Linked DNA regions of Homo sapiens. The protein of the gene in region 1 purifies or fractionates together with the protein of each later gene. This does not show direct contact. Each region holds a gene or a part of one and is shown on either strand. Other genes may lie near its edges.

Region 1 (3,084 bases):
ATGCTGGAGTGTAGTGGCATAATCACAGCTCACTGCAGCCTTGACCTCCTGGGCTCAAGCAGTCGTCCTGCCTCAGCCTCACAAGTAGCTGGGATCACAAGTGCACGCCACCACACTCGGCTGATATTTCGATTTTCTTATAGAGACAGTCTTACTAAGTTGTCCACGCTGGTCTCAAACTCCTGAATTCAAGCTACCCTCCCACTGCATGAGCCACTGTGCCTAGCCTCTTTGATTTTCACATTCTCAAAATATTTCTTTTATTTTCTCTCCTTTTTTTTTTTTTTTCGAGGCAAGGTCTTACTCTGTCACCCAGGCTGGAGTGCAGTGGTGCAAGATCATGGCTCAATGGCTCACTGAAGGCTGACCTCCCAGGCTCAAGCAATCCTCCCACCTCAGCCCCCTGAGTAGCTGGGACTACAGGTGTATGCCACCATGCCAGGCTAATTGTTTTGCAGAGATGGAGTTTTCACCATGTTGCCCAGGCTGATCTCAAGCTCCTGAGCTCAAGTGATCTGTCCGCCTCAGCCTCCCAAAGTGCTGAGATTACAGGTGTGAGCCACCACACCCAGCCTTTTTTCTTCCTTTTCAAGCATTTTTTAAATTTCACTAGCTTTGGGTACAAGTGGTTTTGGGTTACATGGAAGAATTGTATAGTGGTGAAGTCTGAGATTTTAGTGCACCCATTACCCGAGTAGTGTATGTTGTACCCAATCCTTCACCGACCTTCCACCCTCTCCCTTCTGAGTCTCCAAAGTCCATTATACCACACTGTATGCCTTTGCATACCCATAGTGTAGCTCCAACTTATAAGTGAGAACATATGATATTTGGTTTTCCTTTCCTGAGTTACTTTACTTAGAATAATGGCCTCCAGCTCCATCCAAGTTGCTGCAAAATACATTATTTTGTTCCTTTTTATTGCTGAGTAGTATTCCATGGTGTATATAAACCACATTTTCTTTATCCACTCCTTGGTTGGTGGACTCTTAGGTTGGTTCCATACCCTTGGAGTTGCAAATTGTGCTGCTATAAACATGCATGTGCATGTATCTTTTTTATGTAATGACTTGTTTTCTTTTGGGTCGATACTCAGTAGTGGGATTGCTGGATCAAATGCTGGATCTACTTTTAGTTCTTTAAGGAATCTCCACACTGTTTTCCGTAGTGGTTGTACTAGTTTACATTCCCACCAGCAGTGTAAAAGTGTTTTCTTCTCACCACATCCATACCAACATCTGTTGTTTTTTGACTTTTAAATTATGGCCATTCTTTTTTTTTGTTTTTGAGATGGAGTCTCGCTCTGTCAGCAGGCTGGAGTGCAGTGGCGTGATCTTGGCTCACTGCAACCTCCTCCTCCAGGGTTCAAGTGATTCTCCTGCCTCAGCCTCCCCCGTAGCTGGGACTACAGGCGTGTGCCACCACACCCAGCTAATTTTTGAATTTTTAGTAGAGATGGGGTTTCACCATGTTGGCCAGTATGGTCTCGATCTCTTGACCTCATGATCCGCCCACCTCGGCCTCCCAAAGTGCTGGCGTGACCCACTGCACCCGGCCAATTATGGCCATTCTTGCAGGAATAAGGAGGCATCTCATTGTTGTGTACCTTCTTTTGAGAAATGCCTATTCGCGTCATTTGCCCACTTTTTGATGGGATTATTTGTTTTTGTTTTTTTTTTCTTGCTGATTTGTTTTGAGTTCCTTCCAGATTCTGGATATTAGTCCTTTGTTGGATGCATAGTTTGCAAATATTTCCTCCCATCCTGTTTTCTGGAATCTACTTCCTTTCACACCTTATTGTAGGAACTATAATCTGTGCCCTTTTTTTCAGCCCAAAGTATTTTGTTGTCTTTTCATATTTGTAACTTTTATTTGAGATTATGTCTACCTGGAACCTCAAAGAGGCTTCTGTTTTTGTCAGTTGGTATCTGTGCAGGACTGAAGTGCTTGCTGGAGAGTTACAAATAACCTAACTGTGATAGTCTTACCTGTGTTCTGCCTTTGTCACTTGTGTTTAAGCCTTTTTTCTTTTTTCTTTTTTCTTTTTTTTTTTTTTGTTGAGACCAGGTCTCACCCTGTCACCCACACTGGAGTGCAATGGTGAGATCTTGGAGCCTTGCCCTCCTGGGCTTAAGTGATCCTCCCACGACAGCCTCCCAAGTAGCTGGGACCACACGCCTGTGCCACCAAGCCTGGCTGATTTTTTTGTATTTTTTGTAGAGTAGGGGTTTCACCGTGTTGCCCAGGCTGGTCTCAAACTCCTGAGCTCAAGCGCTCTGCCCGCCTCAATCTCCCAAAGTGCTGAGATTACAAGATTGAGCCATCACGCCTGGCTATGTTTAAACTTTTAATTTAATATGTTTAGAAATGACTGTTGAGGCCAGGTGCGGTAATGCCAGCACTTTGGGAGGCCAGGGCTGGTGGATCACTTGAGGTCGGGAGTTCAGGACCAGCCTGGCCAACATGGTAAAACCCCATCTCTACTTAAAAATACAAAAATTAGCTGGGCATGGTGTCAGGCGCCTGTAATCCCAGCTACCTGGGAGGCTGAGACAGGAGAATCGCTTGAACCTGGGAGGCAGAGGTTGCAGTGAGCCGAGATCACACCATCGCACTCCGGCCTGGGTGACAGAACAAGACTTTGTCTCAAAAAAAAAAAAAAAAATCTGGGTGTGGTGGCCCACACCTGTAATCCCAGCACTTTGGGAGGCCGAGGCAGGCAGATCACCTGGCTCCTGACCAGCGTGACCAACATGGAGAAACCCAGTCTCTACTAAAATTACAAAATTAGCTGGGCGTGGTGGCACATGCCTGTAATCCCAGCTACTTGGGAGGCTGAGGCAGGAGAATCGCTTGAACCCAGAGGCAGTGGTTGCAGTGAGCCGAGGTCGTGCCATTGCACTCCAGCCTGGGCAACAAGAACGAAACTCTGTCTCAAAAAAAAAAAAAAATGGTGACTGTTGCTACTGGTGACGTAATAACACAAAACATAGGAAAAATAAACATTGGACTCATTTGATTTCATCTATGTAAAGACTTGATGACCTCTTAGTAGAAAAATGTATACATTAAGAGCCATTCACA
Region 2 (3,500 bases), on another chromosome or scaffold:
AAGTATATATGAGAGATGGTCATTTAAAAAAATTTTTAGTAGGGATCTAGGTTTATTTTATTTTTGGAAATGAATTTTTAATTTCCTGCCATTATATCTGCTTTGTCTTAGGTTTTACTTCATCGACTGGCAAGTTTTCATCGAGTTTGGAGTTTTCCACCAAATGAAAATACAGGAAAGGAGGTGACGTGTCTGGCATGGAGACCAGATGGCAAACGTAATGATAATATTACAAAAAAAATATGTTTTTATTTTCACAAAGAGTATTCTGTAAAGCCCATTTTCAGAAAGGATTTATTGTTCTTAGTATACATAAGAATTATAAATATCACTTTGGGAACTTTTTAAAAAAAATGCCTTAAAATATTTTTATAGAACTCAGATTAATTCTGCTATCTTGTTTCTTGGCAAAGATATCTCTTAAATAAAATCTGGCTTCTTGGCAAAGATAACTCCGAAGTGAAATCTGATGGAATATACAAAATGTTTTGGTTTTGTTCTTTCCACTGTCATCTTGTCCTGTATTATTTGGCCCAAGCACCACTTGCCACTCGCCAGTGAGTTAGTTCAAAGCCATCATGGCCTTTTTCTTTCACAATATATTTTAGCATGAAATGTGTGGCTCATATTCCCTTGGTGCATGTGTGTTTGCCTCACCTGGGGGACTATCACCTTTGACCCCATACCTTCCATTTCTGTGTGTGATCTTTCTTCTGGTACCCTCTTACGTTAAAGCCTGTTATGGCTCTGGTGACTGAACTCTCCTTTTCCATGTAATGTTTTTACAATGACAGTCTGTATTGGAACTGTTGTACACATACAATCAGCACAGTAAAATGCTGTAAACCCTACAGCTTAAAGTTCATTTGTATCATTGGTACTTTAAGAAAAAAGTGAACTGTTTTTGTAAAATATGTGTTGTTCTTTGCTTAATTTTTCTGTAGATAAATATAAAGTATTTAAAAATTTTATTGGTGCTTTAAGAAAAAAAGTGAATTGTTTTTGTAACATATATGCTCCTCATTGCTTTTTCTTTTCCCCCCCAGACAGTGTCTCACTCTTGTCGCCCAGGCTGGAGTGCAGTGCAGTGGTGCAATCTCGGCTCACTGCAACCTTGGGCTCACTGAAACCTTCACCTCCCGGGTTCAAGCAATTCTTCTCCCTCAGCCTCCTGAGTAACTAAGACTACAGGCGTGCACCTTCATCCCTGGCTAATTTTTGTGTTTTTTGGTAGAGAAAAGGTTTCACTGTGTTGGCCAGGCTGGTCTCGAACGCCTGGCCTCAAGTGATTCGCCTACCTTGGCCTACTACAGTGTGGGGATTACAGGCGTGAACCACTGCACATGGCCTTCATTGCTTAATTTTGTCCCTACATAAATATAAAAAAGTACTTAAAAATTCCCTAGGTGGGGCATGGTGGCTCACGCCTGTAATCCCAGCACTTTGGGAGGCTGAGGTAGGTGAATCATGAGGTCAGGAGTTCAAGACCAGCCTGGCCAATATGGTGAAACCCCATCTCTACTAAAAATACAAAAATTAGCCAGGCGTGGTGGTGGGCACCTGTAATCCCAGCTTCTCAGGAGGCTGAGGCAGAGAATTGCTTGAACCCGGGAGGTGGAGTTTGCAGTGAGCCAATATCGCACCACTGCACTCCAGTGTGGGCTACAAGAGTGAGACTCCGTCTCAAAAAAAAAATCCCTGAAAGCAGATAACTTAGAGATGACAGTTGTTTCTGTTTTGGTGAACATCTTTTCCAATATTTCCCGATAAAATACATACATGTAGAGATCTATATATAATTTTATCAAAAGACAGTTATTTGGTGCATACCATTTTGTTGTATAGCTTTTTCTTTTTTTTCCCCCCCCTCACTTTTTCCCATGTCAGTGTGGATAGATTGACCACATTAATGTTAATTGCGTACTAACCCACTATATTTATATATTGTAATTTACTAAACCTGTTGCCCTTTGGTGGATATTTAGATGGTTTTCAGTTTTTGGCTTTGATAAGCAATGCTGTGTAAACATTCTGAACACTGGGAAGAACTTTGCCAGTAGCTCCTTAGATTAACACCCAAAATGGAATTTCTGGAAATGTCTTAAACATTCTATGCTCATTCTGTAGTCATTTTGCTTGGAGTATATGTAGAATATGTGTAAGATTAGAGGACTTTTATAAGTAAAGTTATGAGATCTTGCACTAAATCATTCAAAAACATGGAATCTCAAAGATAAATCACAAAAGTGTGCGTTAAAATGTTTATAAGTAGTTGTATTATTCATTTTTTAAAAGTCTCATGTTTTTGGACAGTAAAATGTGTTTTTTGTTAGATAATGATCATTTCAAGTTTTAAATTGTTTTTAAGTAAGAAGGCTGGGATTGGTTCACATCTGGCAAAGTTGCATGTGATGGTGATATGCAGTGAAACTCACTGCCCTCTTTTTGGAAATTCTTAAATTCTTAAATTGCACGTTAGGAAGAAATAATGACTTGTGTGGAGAAACCATACTAGAAAATTCAGCCACACTCAAAGGAAGATTTATGTGTGTTTAATGGCCTCGTTTCCCACCATCGTTTAGAAACATAAAAGAGGAATAAAAAGCATTCCAAGAACAAAGCAGATGGAATCATTGCTTACCTTTTAGACATGTGATAACATATAATTGTTTATTTGTTGAAGCCTCTTTTGTATTTTCTGCTTGACAACAGGGTTTCAAGTCTGGAAACTTTGATGTGTAAGACGTTAAGTGTGCTACGTGAGAAAGTAGTAGATCTCCTATAAAGTTTGAGCACTTGAAAATAAGCTTAGTTAATGTAACTACAATATATGCAAATATTTCTTTTTTTAGTTTTTAAAATATTGAAGGATGTTTAGGTCAAAAATTGCCATGATGAAGATGCACTTAAAAGAGTAAAACTGGGCAATAAGGGAAATACCCATTTATTTTTCTCAATTGTTACACTAATTTATTCTGATTGTTTTTTCTTGTTTTAGTTTTGGCCTTTGCTCTTGCTGATACCAAGAAAATTGTTTTGTGTGATGTAGAAAAACCTGAGAGCTTACACTCTTTTTCTGTGGAGGCTCCAGTTTCCTGTATGCATTGGATGGAAGTGACAGTAGAAAGCAGGTAATTAGAAAAACTTATGTAGTCATAGGGTATTCATGAGATTTTTATTTTTTGAAATGGAAACTTAGGAGTATCTGAGTATTGGGTGTATGTGCGTTGTATTTAAATTTTGGTTTCAGTTTATCAAGATGAAATTTTTTAATGCTTTCTTAGATTTTTTTTTTCCTTCCGATAAACATCTATAGGCATACCTCAGAGATATTGTGGGCTTGGTTCCAGACCACTGCAATAAAGTGAACATTGCAATAAAAGCAAGTCATTTGAATTTCTTTGTTTCTCAGTGCATGTAAAAGTTATGTTTATATTATGCTATAGTACATTTAAATGTGCAATGACATCATGTCTAAAAAAATTAAGCATGTAACTTAA

The links.
Region 2: the proteins of PLEKHA5 (region 1) and ANAPC4 purify together in Homo sapiens (affinity purification with western blotting; one study listed by BioGRID). This does not show direct contact.

The regions. Positions count from the first base shown.
Region 1 is NC_000012.12:19,370,733-19,373,816, forward strand, and holds part of PLEKHA5 (pleckstrin homology domain-containing family A member 5), read left to right. Parts: exon of another isoform or gene 1-2,951; intron 2,952-3,084.
Region 2 is NC_000004.12:25,380,263-25,383,762, forward strand, and holds part of ANAPC4 (anaphase-promoting complex subunit 4), read left to right. Parts: intron 1-111; coding exon 112-217; intron 218-2,998; coding exon 2,999-3,131; intron 3,132-3,500. UniProt on the Homo sapiens protein: Component of the anaphase promoting complex/cyclosome (APC/C), a cell cycle-regulated E3 ubiquitin ligase that controls progression through mitosis and the G1 phase of the cell cycle.